Linked DNA regions of Homo sapiens: region 1 is linked to region 2. The links come from fine-mapping of genetic effects on gene expression. Tissue or cell type: blood mononuclear cells. Region 2 holds a variant in brackets; the other region holds the start of a gene. All regions are shown on one strand. Distances are from middle to middle.

Region 1 (8,149 bases), 54 kb after region 2:
TGTGAGACTTTATTTCTGGGCTCTCTGTTCTATTCCATTGGTTTATATGATTGTCTTTATGCCACTACCACACTGCTTTCACTACTGTAGCTTTGTAGTGAGTTTTGAAATCAGGATGCATGAAACCTCCAACTTTGTTCTTCTTATGTGTAGTATGTCTTTGTGCCTCAGTGGCAACTTCCATTTATTGGCCTGTTATATTTCTATACTTTTTTATGCATGGCTGAAACCATTCCCCTTCCCATAAAGCTTTCTCAGTCTCTCCAACAAAGGACTTCATTGATCCTTCCTCTGGGCTATCCAGCTAAAAGGAAGAAAGGGGTGGACAAAAGTGACCTATTTTGTGTCAAAAGCACCTGTCTTTTGACTGTCTGTATTCCCCACAAGGCATGAACAACTAAAGACATGTGTGCTCCCTGAACAGGGTCAGGGATAGGACAGGCCTCACTTCATGTAGGACTGACAGCATGAGGACATCCTTCACTCTCGGAAGCTCTCTGAGAGAATATTCTGGATAATTGAGGCCTCAGCTTTGAATGCCAACACCTGCCTAAAATGTTTGACCATTTTGCATGAAACTCTTCCTGCCTGGGTTTCATACTCCATGCCTTCTAAATAGAAAACTCATAATGACCACAGTCACCTTTCCTTGATGACTCTGGGTCATCCGTATGTGTGTGAATCTTGGCTGCTACTCAAGAATGCCCTTTGTTGAGAGTTGATCTACCCAGTTTTATAGGTCTGTTTGCCCCGATTTAGTCATCTTTTACATTGTCTTTCCTGGTCTTTCCAGGTTTAATGACCTCTCATGCACCATCAACCCATCAGCTGCCATTCTCCTTGCTGTCCCTGTGTAGCTTTGCCCCCTCTCTTCTAATTTGTTGTGAGTTGGGATATGAATAACAAGACTCTGGCTAAAACAAAAATAAACAGTCTCTGAGTGGGGTCACAAGGCTCACTGATAAGTCAAAGATTTAGGTTTTGGGCATGAGTTTTAGAATGTCTATTCTGGCTGTTTCAAAGCCTTTTTTGCTCCCTTCCTCATGCTCTGTTGGTCTCTGGGCTGCTAATGTGCCTGGTTAGCTTACAGATAAGTCTTAGATGCATTCGAGGAGAGGCTACTATAAACCCAAACCTGCTAGTTTTGGATTAGGTAAGTGTGCAGGGTTTGGGGGTCAGCCTCATGTATCTGTGAGGTAGATGGGAAGACAGAGCATGCAGGCAGCAGAACACTGTCCTAGTCCATCCCTACTGCTACAGCAAAACACCTAAGACCAGGTAATTTATAAAGTACAGGAATTTATTTCTCACAATTCTGGAGGCTGGAAGTCCAAGATCAAAGCCCCAGCAGGTTTGGTGTCTGGTGAGGGCCCAGTCTATGCCTCCAAGACGGCACCTTGTGGCTGTGTCCTCACATGGCAGAAGGTAAAAAGGCAAAAGGGCCTGGCTAGTTCCCTTAGCCCTTTTATAAGGTACTGATCCCACCCATGAGGGAGAAGCCCTCACGGGCTAATCACTCCTAAAGGCCCTACCTCTTAGTACTGTTGCATTGGGGATTCAGTTTCAACATGAATTTTGGAAGCAACACAAGCATCCAAACTATAGCAAACCCCAAGGGCTGGGTGAGGGGGCTCCTTGTGGGGAGCATAGAAAGAAGTACAAGACTCAGCTGTCTTCTCCCTGCGACATTCCTTTTCCCATCTCTGGAAGAGTCATCCGGATCCAGAGCCCTCACTATGGTGTGCTCAGAGGCCTAAGCTCAGACCACTCCTTCCCTGCTCCCTGATTAACACCCAGAGATCTGCCAGCCTCATTCCCCACTGTCCCTGTATCCAGCTCACCCCCAGGGACCACTGGGCACCTGGTCCATCACATTTTCCTGATGTTTCTAATGCTGCCCCTCCTGCATCCCTGTTCGTCTGATAAACTTGCCTTTAAACGTGTATATGAAGGACTCTTCCTCTGGTATCTAATCCTAACAGGTGCTAGATCCCACAGAGCCCTGTCCAGCTGGGGACTATGCTGACCTCTCTCCCAGATCAATATCCCTCTCCTCGGGGCTCAGCCTGGCCAGTGCCTGATGTTCTGGGATAGGAGAACTGGGGAGAGAAGGCCTAGGACCCTGCCTCTCACTTTTCTTTCCACCAAAAGGGGAAAAAAGAGGATCTGGTCCTCACACCCAGCCTTGGGATACTTATAAGATGCTGGGGATAGGGTGTGGGACAGGGCCAGTGAGAGCTGGGGATGGGGTGTGGGACAGGGCCAGTGAGATCTGTTTTCCTGCTGCTCCAGTCTGGGCCCTACAGCAGATGCATGCAGAGTAATATTTGTAAGACTGAAATATTCCAAATGCAGCTACTTTGGAAGGACCATGTGAGCAGATATCTAAGTGCGTGGCATCTGGGCCCCTTGGCTAGATGGTGGTCGATGTTGGTTTCTTTGTGTTAACCCCAAGAACATTCAGTAGCTCAGGGTTTGCAGAGGTTCTCAGGAGCACATCTTAGCCTCATTGGTGGTGTGAGGCAGGCAGGGCACAGGTCACACTGATGAGGACACCCGGGCCCAGAGACATTTAGCAACCTGCCCAAGGGCATCTGTAGTTCAGTGAGAGGTGGAGCTGGGACTGAAATCTAGGCTGCCTGAGTCCCAGAGATGGTCTTCCCTGGACCCAGGGAGCACTGTATCTTTTTCAGGGAAGGCCTCCTGACCACAACCATTTCATCTGTCACAGTACAGAATAGGAAGTATGGGTCAGGCATCAGAAGATGTGAATTCTGGCTCTGCCTTTTCAGAGATGGCCCTGCCTAGTTCCTTGGAATAAATGATGATGTCTTCCCCAGCCTCAGTTTCCTACACTATATAAAAAGAGAAAGCAACATCTAGGTAGGTTGGAATGGGAGTACATGAGGTGGTGGCCACTTTGCTAGGGTCACAGTAGACTCCTCACCTCCTTCCCCTTGTCTTCCTCTCACTAGGTAAAAGACAATTGTATTGAACTCTTAAGAAAATTGGACTCCAGTCCCGGCTCCACCTTTACTTCCCTGGGCCTTGGTTTTCCCACCACACAGGAGTTTGAACACTTTGATTTCTGAAGTCCTTCCCACCTCTGGGGTTCCAATATTCTGCTCCTTTTCTCCTCTTCCTCCTCCCCCTCCTTTCTCCTCCTGCTCATCTGGGGTTAGGGAGATTGCGTGTATGTGTGTGCCTGTGTGTACACATGCATGTATGTGTGTGCACGTAGTGGCAGCAAGGAAGAGGAAGGAAGGAGTCCTGCAGGGGTTGGTGGTGGCAGTTGGGAGAAAAGGAGGCAGGACTGTATGTGCCAGCAGGGCTCAGAGTTTTCTCACCAACTAATGGTGCTTGGGGCAGTTTAATCATTAAAGGAAAGGAATGAAGCCAGGAGCGCCTCAAAGTCCAGCCTGCTGTTGACCAACACTAACAGATGAGCAAGGAGCTGGCAGCAATGGGGCCTGGAGCTTCAGGGGACGGGGTCAGGACTGAGACAGCTCCACACATAGCACTGGACTCCAGAGTTGGTCTGCACGCCTACGACATCAGCGTGGTGGTCATCTACTTTGTCTTCGTCATTGCTGTGGGGATCTGGGTAAGTGGGCCCTGAGGCTGGGGCTAGCAGGGGAGGTAGTAGTGGTCTCTCAGCTTGGGTGGGGCTGTGGAGCTGGGGCAGGGCTAGGCAGAAAGAAGCAGATCATAGAACCATGTGGCTGAGAAGGAAGGGCCTTCAGGAATCAGGCTCCTGATCTCCTCATTTTTAGAAGGGCAGAGAGGGGTGTGGCTGGTCTGAGGTCACACAGAGAGTCAGAGGCAGACCAGGCCCCCGACTCCTGACTCCTCTCTGAGCACCTGCTGCCTTTGGCCCCAACCATCCCTGGTTGCCCTGAGCCTCACTCCTTCCTTCTTCCCACCCCAAGGCCCCCAACTCTGAGAACTCTTGACCCCTGGCCCTACCTCAGTCCTGCATTCGTTAGCATCTTGGCTAAGGTGATTTCTAAATGAGAAGGGGCTCATGTGCTCTCAGGGAAGTGTGCCAGGCTTATTCCAAGGTTCCTCTGTTCTCCATTGTTCCCAGGAGCCTCAGTGCTAGAGGCAGGGGCCAGGCTTTGGGGTCAGGGAAACCTGAGTTCAGGTCCCAGCTGCAACAATGAGAGCCTCATGTCCCTGGGAACATATGAGGCCTATCAGCTTTCTCAGGTGAACAATGAGAATAAGGACTATGCTGTGATCATTCAGCAACAGGACATACTGCAGCACCTGGCACGGTGCCTGGTGCCCGATCAGCAGGCAATAAATGGCTGCTATTATCACCACGCATTCCACAGAAGTGTGAGCACCTTTAGACTCTGCTGTGATTCAAGTCCCAGATGGTCACTTCCTAGGCTGTGGCCAGGTCAGAGACCCTCTCTGAGCCTCAGTTTCCTCATCTATAAAGGGGGGTGAACAGTCCCTGCCTTCTAGTGCTGGTGTGAGGAAGAATTGGGCTAACAGATGGTCACTGGCTCCTGGAAGTGGCCAGCCGAGAAAAGCACCAACTCCTCTGTGACTTTGGACAAATTGCTTCCAATGTTGGGCCTCCATTTTCACATCTGTAAAATGGATCTGTTTTGCTCGTATGGCCTCCAAGAGGATCAGAGCTGACAAGGAAAATACAAGCAAAAGCTTAACAAGCACAAGGCCCCACACATATTTATCACTCCCTCGTGACTGATTATTTTCCCTTAGGGGAAAGTCAGAGAACTGTTGGCTTTTGCATCTGAATAGCTGCTTCAAGTTCATCCTTCCCTACCCACTGCCCTGCCCTCACCCTGTATCTCCAGAGAATATTCCAACAGGCTGCTAACTGACCACCTACTGGTGTAAGACAGGGAGGTCCTGGATGGGGCTCAGTGGCGTGATCTGATTTCAACCCAGGGCAAGGGAAACTCCAAAACAGTACCCATAACTCTACTCAGGGCTCAAAGTCTCACAGTCAAACTGCAGCCCTCTCTGTCCTCCCGCCTCCAGTGTGGGAGCTCAGCTGGGAGCAGGGAGGGGATCAGCTCAGAGAAAGGGTGAGCACTACACATCTAAGGAGGTGATAACAAATCATACTCTGAAAGCGCACTTTGGGGAGGGAAGGATAAGGGGACAAGAGTGCACAATCAATGGCTTCACACACGTGACATCCGTTACCTCCTTTGCTCTTCGCACTGGCCCTGGGAGATGAATGGCGAGGCTCACAGAGAAAGTGACTCTGCCAAGATACATCGCTTAGAAACTGTGGAACCAGCCTCAGGCAGCTCTCTTCTGCCTCAGTTTTCACCCTCTGTGTCCCCACAGTGCCTGCACCGAGGGGAAGGAAATCTGCGGGGAGGGGGCAGGGCAGAGGTTCAGAGAGTCTTGAGAAATCCTCATCTCATCTATTTCCTTTCCAGTCGTCCATCCGTGCAAGTCGAGGGACCATTGGCGGCTATTTCCTGGCCGGGAGGTCCATGAGCTGGTGGCCAGTGAGTTGACCCTTCTCAACCACCCCTAGTGCAGAGGCTCCCAACTTTCTTCCTCCCCACTATCCAAGCACTTGTCCCATCTTCTCACACCTGGACCAAGGCAAAGACCTCCCCGTTGTGTTTCCTGACTCTGGGCCCCTTCTCTCCCGCCCAAACCCGCCCCGCAACCTGAGTGGTCCTGCTAGCACGCACCTTGGACAAACATCCCCTGGCCCCTCCTAGGTGTGGCCCTACATCTGGCACTTGACTTGCAGTGATGAATCTGGAATGTCCCTGTCCTAGAGAAGCTCAGAGCTGAGTGGGGCAGATAGATTCATAAACATCATGCGCACTGCTGAGCCAGAGGGAAGCAGGGGGCACTCACCAGAGCTTGGAAGCCCCTGACCACCAGACAGTGGAGTCAGCTAGGGTTAGGAAAGATTTTGGGGGGAAGGTGACACATAAGCTTAATATTGAAGAACAGTTAAGTTAAGGGAATCACAGAGGTAAAATCCCCAGCAATCTCAGGGAATCGATCCCCAAAACTTTGTGAGCCACAGTTTCTCCCATCAAGCCACACCACATTTCTAAGTTAGGGGAATCACAGAGGTAAAATCCCCAAAAACCTCAGGGAATCGATCCCCAAACCTTCGTGAGCCACAATTTCTCCCATCAAGCCACCTCACATTTCTATTGGTCCTCAAAATTAACTTCCTCCTCCTGGAATGGGATGGAGGGAGGAAAGCCCTGCCTCAAAAATTACCAGTAGAGTCATCAGCCCCAGTGGTAGCTGAAGCAGTATACACACCCAGGCATGCAAAACTCACACACGGCATGTGTGCATACCCACTCCCACATGCACACTCTCACACACTGACACACAACACTCACACTCACATACAAAGGCACCCACACATGTTCATACATGCCCGCACTCATACATGCTTGCAAACTCATGCACACAATCATACTCCTATTCTCACACTCACACCTTCTCTCACGCACTCACACTCTCACTCTCATACACACTGTCACAATCACATACACTCACATGCAGTCTCACACTCATGCTCCTTTACATACTTACACGTGCACACTCAGACTCACACATTCATGCGCACTCACACCACCAGCCATCTTCACGCCTCTCCCCACCCTTCTCCTTCTCACCACCTTCCCCACTCTCTAGTGGTCACAGACTCATTAAAGAGTAGCAGAAACACAGGAGGCCTCCAGGGCTCTCTGGAAGGTTTAGGTATCTGGGACAGGAAGAAGTAGGAGCAGGGAGCTCTTGTCTGTCCAGCATGACAGAATCCCCAGGGATGGCGGGGAGCTGGGCCTTGCAGCTCAGGAACAGTGGCGGGGTCACTGGTGCTACAGCCACCTTCTCATCAGGAAAAAGGAAAAACCCTTCAAAATGGTTCTTTTCAGCTAGTGCCCCCCAAATCACAGCCCTGGAAATGAAGGAAAGGAGGAGAAAGAAGCAGGACAGAGCAGGTTCCTCTGACCACTTCAGGAGAAGCCCAGGGGCCCTGCTGATTGTCTGGTCAACCCACAGAGAGCCGAGCTCTGGCCCAACGATTAGTGTGAGGAACCTGAGGCCTCCAAACAAGAGGGAGGCCTTGGCAGGCACTCCCAGGTTCCCACTGCGCCCCAAACACAGAGCAGGCACCCAGTGGGAAAGAGAGGATGTGCTCCCCATCCTCTGGTGGGCCAGGCTGTGAGCTGTGCCTCCTGCACCTGAGACCTGGGTCCTGCCTGAGGCCAGAGTAAGAACCAGCTCTGGGTAGGGAAAGCTCAGTCCCACCAGCACTGCTGGAGTGTTTGTCTGGGCATCTGCCCTGCCCTGAGTCTGTGCCCCATGAACAGTGTGGGGCTTGGGAGGCTGAGAGCAGAAGGTGCAGTCGCCCGTCCTCTTCCAGAGAGGTCTGCATGGTCCTCCTCCCCATGCCTCCCCTGCTGATCTTGTTGATGTCTCCTGGGTTAGGAGCAGGAGAAGTGAGGTTAAAAACCCTGGGCTGGGTTGGGGTGGAGGTGCCTCACTGCTCCAAGAACTGCCTGGGGGAGGCTTCTTCCCCTGAAGTAGGAGGCCTTGGTGTTCTTTGCTCTGACTGGGTGGTTCAGCCCAGCCCTACCAGCACCCTGGGACCGCCTGAGAGAGGAAGAGTGAGTGTGTGTGTGAGTGCCTGTGTGAATTTGTTTCCATGTGTGAGTATGTATGCATGTGTGAATGTGGGCACTGTGTGTGTGCATGAGTGTGCTTGTGTGTGTGTGCTTTGCGAATGTATGTGCACGTGTGTGCATACCTGTGCGTGTGAGGGCATATGAGGACATGTGCATGTGTGTGAGTGTATGTGTGCGACGGTGCAAGTGCATGAGTGTGTGTGTCAGAGTGTGTGTGCGTGTGTGTGTGTACTGTGCCTGTGTGTGAGTGCATGTGTGTGTGCATGTGTGAGTGTGTGTGTACTGTGCCTGTGTGTGAGTGCATGTGTGTCAGAGTGTGTGTGTGTATGTGTGAGAGTGTGTGTGTACTGTGCCTGTGTGGGCGTGAGTGCATGTGTGTGTCAGAGTGTGTGTGTACTGTGCCTGTGTGTGATTGCATGTGTGAGAGTGTGTGTGTACTGTGCCTGTGTGGGCGTGAGTGCATGTGTGTCAGAGTGTGTGTGTGT
Region 2 (8,204 bases):
TTTCATATGAATTTAAATGGCCACATGTGGCTAATATATATCATATTGGATAGCTCAGCTGTAGACTATGGAGTTGGGTGTCATATAATATCCAGTAAATATGTTAAGCATGAGTGCCCTGGATCCCTCCACATGTGTCCTCATATTTGTGAAGACCTTAGTTTGCTTCAAGTCCTCCATCTCCCCTCCATTTCTCTGCCGTTCAGACTACTTCAAGGGTGAGTATTCACCTTTCATTCAGAATACTTCAAGGGTGATTGGCTTAAATGCTACGTATTTGCAAATAGCACCCATATAGTATATAGACTGTAGAATTTTGAAGATAGTAGGTGAAGGCTTTCTGAAATACATTTAGAAAGGTGAATCTGTAACTAAGTAGTCAGTAATTTGATTCAGGGAGAAATGAGAATAAAAATTATCATTAAAGAGTCTATTGTAAAGATTCAGGTACTTTTAAAAGTCAAGTTTTACTAAAGTGTTGCCAGAAATAATTAGAAGGATTGTAACAAATTCTAAAAGGATTCTGTTAATTTTTTAGCAATCTAGCAATATATGTAGACGTAAAAAAGCAGACAGTATTTACTGATAGTTTTGATGTCTGAACAGATATAATTCTCATTCTTGATCCTCCACTCTTTCCAAATCAAACTCTAAACTCATAAATTTGACCTTGTTAACCAGACCATATAATATAAAAATAGAAATAGTGAGAATTTTCCTAATACTCAGCCTCATACAGGTTGAGAATCTTGGATGCATAGAAAACTCACAGGGATCCATCCTTACCTGTGACCTTCACTTCTGTGATGGACTCTTCATAGACATTTCTGTCTTTGAAGAAGCAGTGGTACTGCCCGTCATCATCAGCACTGACATTAAGGATCCTGAGGGTCACTTTACCTTCTCCAATGGCTTCTTTCAGGAGCTCTGTCCGCTCCACATACTTGGAGATAGTTTCTCCATACAGGTCTTTACCATCCTTATACAGGTAAACAGGTCGTGTGTAGTGACTCTGGAACCAGCGTATTTCCATGTGTTCTGCGCTTTGTGGTGGAGACAGCTGGCAACTGAGCTCAACTTTTCCACCCAGTGGAGCCAAGATTGGCCTCTATAAGCTATTCACTATGAATTGTTCTGTGAAGGGAGACAGCAACGAAAGGATGAGAAGTGGACCAAGACAAAATTTTTATTTGAATTATTATATCACAAACACCCATAGACACACACACACACACACACACACACACACACACACACACACACTTTATTGAGAGTACATTCTTTTGTTTTCTCTTTTCCTTGAAAACACCTTTACTTTGCACTTTGCTTGAATGGAAATTCATCAAATTACTTTAAGAAATATGGGGAGGCCGAGGTGGGTGGATCACCTGAAGTCAGGGGTTCGAGACTGGCCTGACCAATATGCTCTGTCTCTACTAAAAATACAAAAAAAAATTAGCTGGGCATGGTGGTGTGCACCTGTAATCCCAGCTACTTGGGAGGCTGAGACAGGAGAATCACTAGAACCCAGGAGGCGGAGGTTGCAGTGAGCTGAGATCACGCCACTGCACTCCAGCCTGGAAGACAGAGCGAGACTCCATCTGAAAACAAAAAAAAAGAAAGAAAGAAATATAAAAAATGGTTTCCATTGTTGCTGTATGGTTTTCATTTCTGTTAAAATAAAGAAAAAGTACTACTACCAGTATAACAATTGCCCCTCTTCATTCTTTTTTTTCACCCTAGTTAAAACAACATTATTATTATTATTATACTTTAAGTTCTAGGATACATGTGTAGAATGTGCAGGTTTGTTACATAGGTATACACGTGCCATGGTGGTTTGCTGCACCCATCAACCCATCATCTACATTAGGTATTTCTCCTAATGGTATCCCTCCCCTGTCCCCCCACCACCCGACAGGCCCTGGTGTGTGATGTTCCCCTCCCTGTGCCCACGTGCCCTCATTGTTCAACTCTCGCTTATGAATGAGAACATGCAGTGTTTGGTTTCTGTTCCTGTGTTAGTTTGCTGAGAATGGTGGTTTCCAGCTTCATCCATGTCCCTGCAAAGGACATGAACACATCTTTTTTATGACTGCATAGTATTCCATGGTGTTTATGAGCCACATTTTCTTTAACCAGTCTATCATTGATGAGCATTTGACTTGGTTCAAAGTCTTTGCTAATGTGAACAGTGCTGCAATAAACACACGTGTGCATGTGTCTTTGTAGTAGAATGATTTATAATCCTTTTGGTATATACCCAGTAAACGCATTCCTATTTCTCCACAACCTCACCAGCATCTGTTGTTTTCTGATTTTTTAATGATCACCATTCTAGCTGGCATAAGATGGTATCTCATTGTGGTTTTGATTTGCATTTCTCTAATGACCAGTGATAATGAGCTTTTTTTCATATGTGTGTTGGCCACATAAATGTCTTCTTTTGAGAAACATCTGTTCATATCTTTTCCCCACTTTTTGATGGGGTTGTTTGTTCTTTTCTTGTAAATTTGTTTAAGTTCCTTGTAGATTCTGGATATTAGCCCTTTGTCAGATGCACATATTGCAAAAATGTTCTCCCATTCTGTAGGTTGCCTGTTCACTTGGATGATAGTTTCTTTTGCTGTGCAGAAGCTCTTTAGTTTAATTAGATCCCATTTGTCAATTTTGGCTTTTGTTGCCATTGCTTTTGGTGTTTTAGTCATGAAGTCTTTGCCCGTGCCTATGTCCTGAATGGTATTGCCTAGGTTTTCTTCTGGGGTTTTCATGGTTTTAGGTCTTACATTTAAGTTTTTAATCCATCTTGAGTTAATTTTTGTGTAAGGTATAAGGAAGGGGTCCAGTTTCAGTGTTCTGTATATGGCTAGCCAGTTTTCCCAACACCATTTATTAAATAGGGGATCCTTTCCCTATTGCATGTTTTTGTCAGGTTTGCCAAAGATCAGATGGTTGTAGATGTGTGGAGTTATTTCTGAGGCCTGTGTTCTGTTCCATTGGTCAATATATCTGTTTGGTTATCAGTACCATGCTGTTTGGGTTACTGTAGCCTTGTAGTGTAGTTTGAAGTCAGGTTGAATGATGCCTCCAGGTTTGTTCTTTTTGCTTAGGATTGCCTTGGCTACATAGGCTCTTTTTTGGTTCCATATGAAATTTAAAGTAGTTTTTTCTAATTCTGTGAAGAAAGTCAGTGGTAGCTTGATGGGGATAGCATTGAATCTATAAATTACTTTAAGCAGTATGGCCATTTTCATGATGTTGATTCTTCCTATCCATGAGCATGGAATGTTTTTCCATTTGTTTTTGTCCTCTCTGAATTCCTTGAGCAGTGGTTTGTAGTTCTCCTTGAAGAGGCCCTTCACATCCCTTGTAAGTTGTATTTCTAGGTATTTGATTCTCTTTGTAGCAATTGTCAATGGGAGTTCACTCATTATTTGGCTCTCTGTTTGTCTATTATTGGTGTATGGGAATGCTTGTAATTTTTGCACACTGATTTTGCATCCTGAGACATTGCTGAATTTGCTTATCAGCTTAAGGAGTTTTTGGGCCGAGACCATGGGGTTTTCTAAATATACAATCGTGTCATTGGCAAACAGAGACAATTTGACTTCTTCTCTTCCTATGTGAACATGCTTTATTTCTTTCTGTTGCCTGATTGCCCTGGCCAGAACTTTCAATACTATGTTGAATAGGAGTGGTGAGAGAGGGCATCCTTGTCTCGCACCGATTTTCTATGGGAATGCTTCCAGCTTTTGCCCATTCAGTATGATGTTGGCTGTGGGTTTGTCATAAATAGCTCTTATT[A/G]TTTTGAGATACATTCCATCAATACCTAGTTTATTGAGAGTTTTTAGCATGAAGGAATGTTGAATTTTATTGAGGCCTTTTCTGCATCTATTGAGATAATCATGTGGTTTTTGTCATTGGTTCTGTTTATGTGATGGATTAGGTTTATTGATTTGTATATGTTGAACCAGCCTTGCTTCTCAGGGATGGAGCCAACTTGATCATGGTGGATAAGCTTTTTGATGTGCTGCTGGATTCATTTTGCCAGTATTTTATTGAGAATTTTCACATTGATGTTCATCAGGGATATTGGCCTGAAATTTTCTTTTTTGTTGTTGTTGTGTCTTTGCCAGGTTTTGGAATCAGGATGACGCTGCCCTCATAAAATTAGTCAGGGAAGACTCCCTCTTTTTCTATTGTTTGAAATAATTTCAGAAGGAATGCTACCAGCTCCTCTTTTTACTTCTGGTAGAATTTGGCTGTGAATCCATCTGGTCCTGGGCTTTTGTTGGTTGGTAGGCTATGAATTACTGCCTCAATTTCTGAACTTGTTATTGGTCTATTCAGGGATTCGACTTCTTCCTGGTTTAGTCTAAGGAGGGTGTATGTGTCCAGAAATTTATCCATTTCTTCTAGATTTTCTGGTTTATTTGCATAGAGGTGTTTATAGTATTCTGACGGTAGTTTGTATTTCTGTGGGATCAGTGGTGATAGCCACTTTATCATTTTTTGTTGTGTCTATTTGATTCTTCTCTTTTTTCTTCATTAGTCTGGCTAGGCATTTATCTCTTTTGTTAATTTTTTTCAAAAAACTAGCTTCTGGATTCATTGATTTTTGGAAGGGCTTTTTGTGTCTTCTTCACTTCTGCCCTGATCTTAGTTATTTATTTTCTTCTGCTTGCTTTTGAATTTGTTTTCTCTTGCTTCTCTAGTTCTTTTAATTGTGGTGTTAGGGTATCTTTCCCACTTTCTCCTGTGGGCATTTAGTGCTATAAATTTCCCTCTAAACACTGCTTTAGCTGTGCCCCAGAGATTCTGGTACATTATGTCTTTGTACTCATCGGTTTCAAAGAACTTACTTATTTCTGCCTTAATTTTGTTATTTGTCCAGTAGTCATTCAGGAGCAGATTGTTCAGTTTCCATGTAGTTGTGCAGTTTTCAGTGAGTTTCTTTATCCTGAGTTCTAATTTGATTGCACTGTTGTCTGACAGATTGTTTGTTATCATTTCCATTCTTTTGCTTTTGCTGAGGAGTGCTTTACCTCCAATTATGTGGTCGATTTTAGAATAAATGTGATGTGGTGCTGAGAAGAATGTATATTCTGTTAATTTGGGATGGAGAGTTCTGTAGATGTCTATTAGGTCCATTTTGTCCAGAGCTGAGTTCAAGACCTGAATATCTTGTTAATTTTATGTCTCGTTGATATGTCTAATATTGACAGTGGGGTGTTAAAGTCTCCCATTATCATTAAGTCAAAGTCTACATCTCTTTGTAGTTCTCTAAGAACTTGCTTTATGAATCTGGGTGCTCCTGTTTTGGGTGCATATATATTTAGGATATTTGGCTTTTCTTGTTGCATTGATCCCTTTACCATTATGTAATGCCCTTCTTTGTCTTTTTTGATCTTTGTTGGTTTAAAGTCTGTTTTATCAGAGACTAAGATTGCACCCCTGCTTTTTTTGCTTTCCATTTGCTTGGTAAATATTCCTCCATCCCTTTATTTTGAGTCTATGTATGTCTTTGCACATGAGATGGGTCTCCTGAATACAGCACAATGAGGGTCTTGACTCTTTATCCAATTTGCCAGTCTGTGTCTTTTAACTGGGGCATTTAGCCCATTTACATTTAAGGTTAATATTGTTATGTGTGAATTTGATCCTGTCATTATGATGCTAACTGGTTACTTTGCCCATTAGTTGATGCAGTTTCTTCATAGTGTTGATGGTCTTTACAATTTGGTATGTTTTTGCAGTGGCTGGTACCAGTTTTTCCTTTCCATATTTAGTGCTTCCTTCAGGAGTTCTTGTAAGGCAGGCCTGGTGGTGACAAAATCTCTCAGCATTTGCTTGTCTGTAAAGGATTTTATTTCTCATTCACTTACGAAGCTTAGTTTGGCTGGATATGAAACTGGATATGAAATTCTGGGTTGAAGATTCTTTTCTTTAAGAATGTTGAATATTGGCCCACACTCTCTTCTAGCTTGTAGGGTTTCTGCACGGACATCCACTATTGGTCTGATGGGCTTCCCTTTGTGGGTAACCCGACCTTTCTCTCTGGCTGCACTTAACATTTTTTCCTTCATTTCAACCTTGGTGAATCTGACAATTACGTGTCTTGGGTTGTTCTTCTCGAGGAGTATCTTTGTGGTGTTCTCTGTATTTCCTGAATTTGAATGTTGGCCTGTCTTGCTAGGTTGGGATAATATCCTGAAGAGTGTTTTCCAACTTGGTTCCATTTTCCCCTTCACTTTCAGGTACACCAATCAAACATAGGTTTGTTCTTTTCACATAGTCCCATATTTCTTGGCAGCTTTGTTCATTCCTTTTCATTCTTTTGTCTCTAATCTTGTCTTCATGCTTTATTTCATTAAGTTGATCTTCAGTCTCTGATATAATTTCTTCCTCTTGATCGATTCGGCTATTAATACTTGTGTATGCTTCACAAAATTCTCGTGCTGTGTTTTTCAGCTCCATTAGGTCATTTCTGTTCTTCTCTAAACTGGCTATTCTATTTAGCAATTCCTTTAACTTTTTTTAAAGGTTGTGAGCTTCCTTGCATTGGGTTGGAACATGCTCCATTAGCTCGGAGGAGTTTGTTATTAAGAGGTTTTCTGGTTTTCGGAATTTTCAGCCTTTTTGCCCTGTTTTTTCCTTATCTTCATGGATTTATCTACCTTTGGTTTTGATATTGCTGACCTTCAGTTGGGGTTTTGGTGAGGAAGTCCTTTTTGTTGATGCTGATGCTATTCCTTTCTGTTTATTAGTTTTCCTTCTAACACTCAGGCCCCTCTGCTGCAGGTCTGCTGGAGTTTGCTGTCGGTCCACTCCAGACCCTGTTTGCCTGGATATCACCAGCAGAAGCTACAGAACAGCCAAGATTGCTGCCCTTTCCTTCCTCTGGAAGCTTTGTCTCACATGGGCACCCACCAGATGCCAGCCAGAGCTCTCCCATATGAGGTGTCTGTCAACCCCTTCTGGGAGGTGTCTCCCCATCAGGAGGCACAGGGGTCAGGTACCCACTTGAGGAGGCAATCTGTCCCTTAGCAGAGCTCAAGTGCTGTGCTTGGAGATCCACTTCTCTCCTCAGAGCCAGCAGTCAGGAATGTTTAAGTCTGCTGAAGCTGTGCCCACAGCCAACCTTCCCCCAGGTGCTCTGTTCCAGGGAGATGAGAGTTTTATCTATAAGCCCCTGACAGGGGCTGCTGCCTTTCTTTCAGAGATGTCCTGCCCAGAGAAGAAGAATCTAGAGAAGCAGTCTGGCTACAGCGGCTTTGTGGAGCTGCAGTGGGCTCTGCCCAGTTTGAAATTTCAGGCCGCTTTCTTTATACTGTGAGGGGAAAACCGTCTACTCAAGCCTCAGTAATGGTGGATGCCCTTCTCTGCACCAAGCTCGAGCATCCCAGGATGACTTCCGACTGCTGTGCTGGCAGCGAGAATTTCAAGCCAGTGGATCTTAGCTTGCTGGGCTCCATGGAGATGGGATCCACTGAGCTAGACCACTTGGCTCCCTGGCATCAGCCCCATTTCCAGGCAAGTGAATGGTTCTCTCTCCCTGGCATTCCAGGTGCCACTGGGTTATGAACAAAAACTCCTGCAGCTAGCTTGGTGTCTGCCCAAACAGCCGCCCAGTTTTGTGCTTGAAACCCAGGGCCCTGGTGGCGTAGGCACCTGAGGGAATCTCCTGGTCTATGGGTTGTGAAGACCATGGTAAAAAGGTAGTATCTCGGCTGGAAAGCACCGCTTCTCATGGCACAGTCCCTCATGGCTTCCCTTGGCTAGGGGAGGGAGTTCCCCAACCCCTTGCACTTCCCGGGTGAGGTGATGCCCCACCCTGCTTCAGCTTGCCCTCTGTGCACCCTCTGTCTAACCAGTCTCAATGACATGAGCTGGGTACCTCAGTTAGAAATGCAGAAATCACCTACCTTCTGCAATGATTTTGATGGGAGGTGCAGACGAGCTGTTCCTATTCAGTCATCTTGCCAGCCACACATGCCCATCTTCATTCCATTATTTCATTTACTCTAAACATACTTTCAGGCAGTTCTTAAAATTTACTCCATTTTAACTATAATGAATCCATGTATGAATGCATTTGTCTTTTTCTGGCTCTTTCATAGTGCTTCTTGAATTGGATGATTCTTGTCTTTTTTAAATTCTGGAAAATTCTCACACATTCTATGTTTAGTTTGACCTCCTTATTC

Evidence for each region. PIP is the estimated chance that this variant, and not a neighbour inherited with it, causes the effect.
Region 1: SLC5A9 starts here. The variant in region 2 is fine-mapped to the expression of SLC5A9 in blood mononuclear cells (TOPMed, PIP 0.95).

Annotation. Positions count from the first base shown.
Region 1 is chr1:48,219,295-48,227,443 of GRCh38, forward strand. SLC5A9 (solute carrier family 5 member 9) reads left to right here and starts at 3,422. Exons shown (of 14, transcript NM_001011547.3): 1 at 3,422-3,604; 2 at 5,430-5,501. The coding sequence starts at 3,443.
Region 2 is chr1:48,165,687-48,173,890 of GRCh38, forward strand. All of the region lies in intron 12 of LINC02794 (long intergenic non-protein coding RNA 2794), which reads left to right. It also overlaps the pseudogene SKINT1L. Among named protein-coding and RNA genes, the nearest start is that of SLC5A9, 53 kb to the right of the region's middle. The variant A/G (reference allele first, on the strand shown) is at 3,805.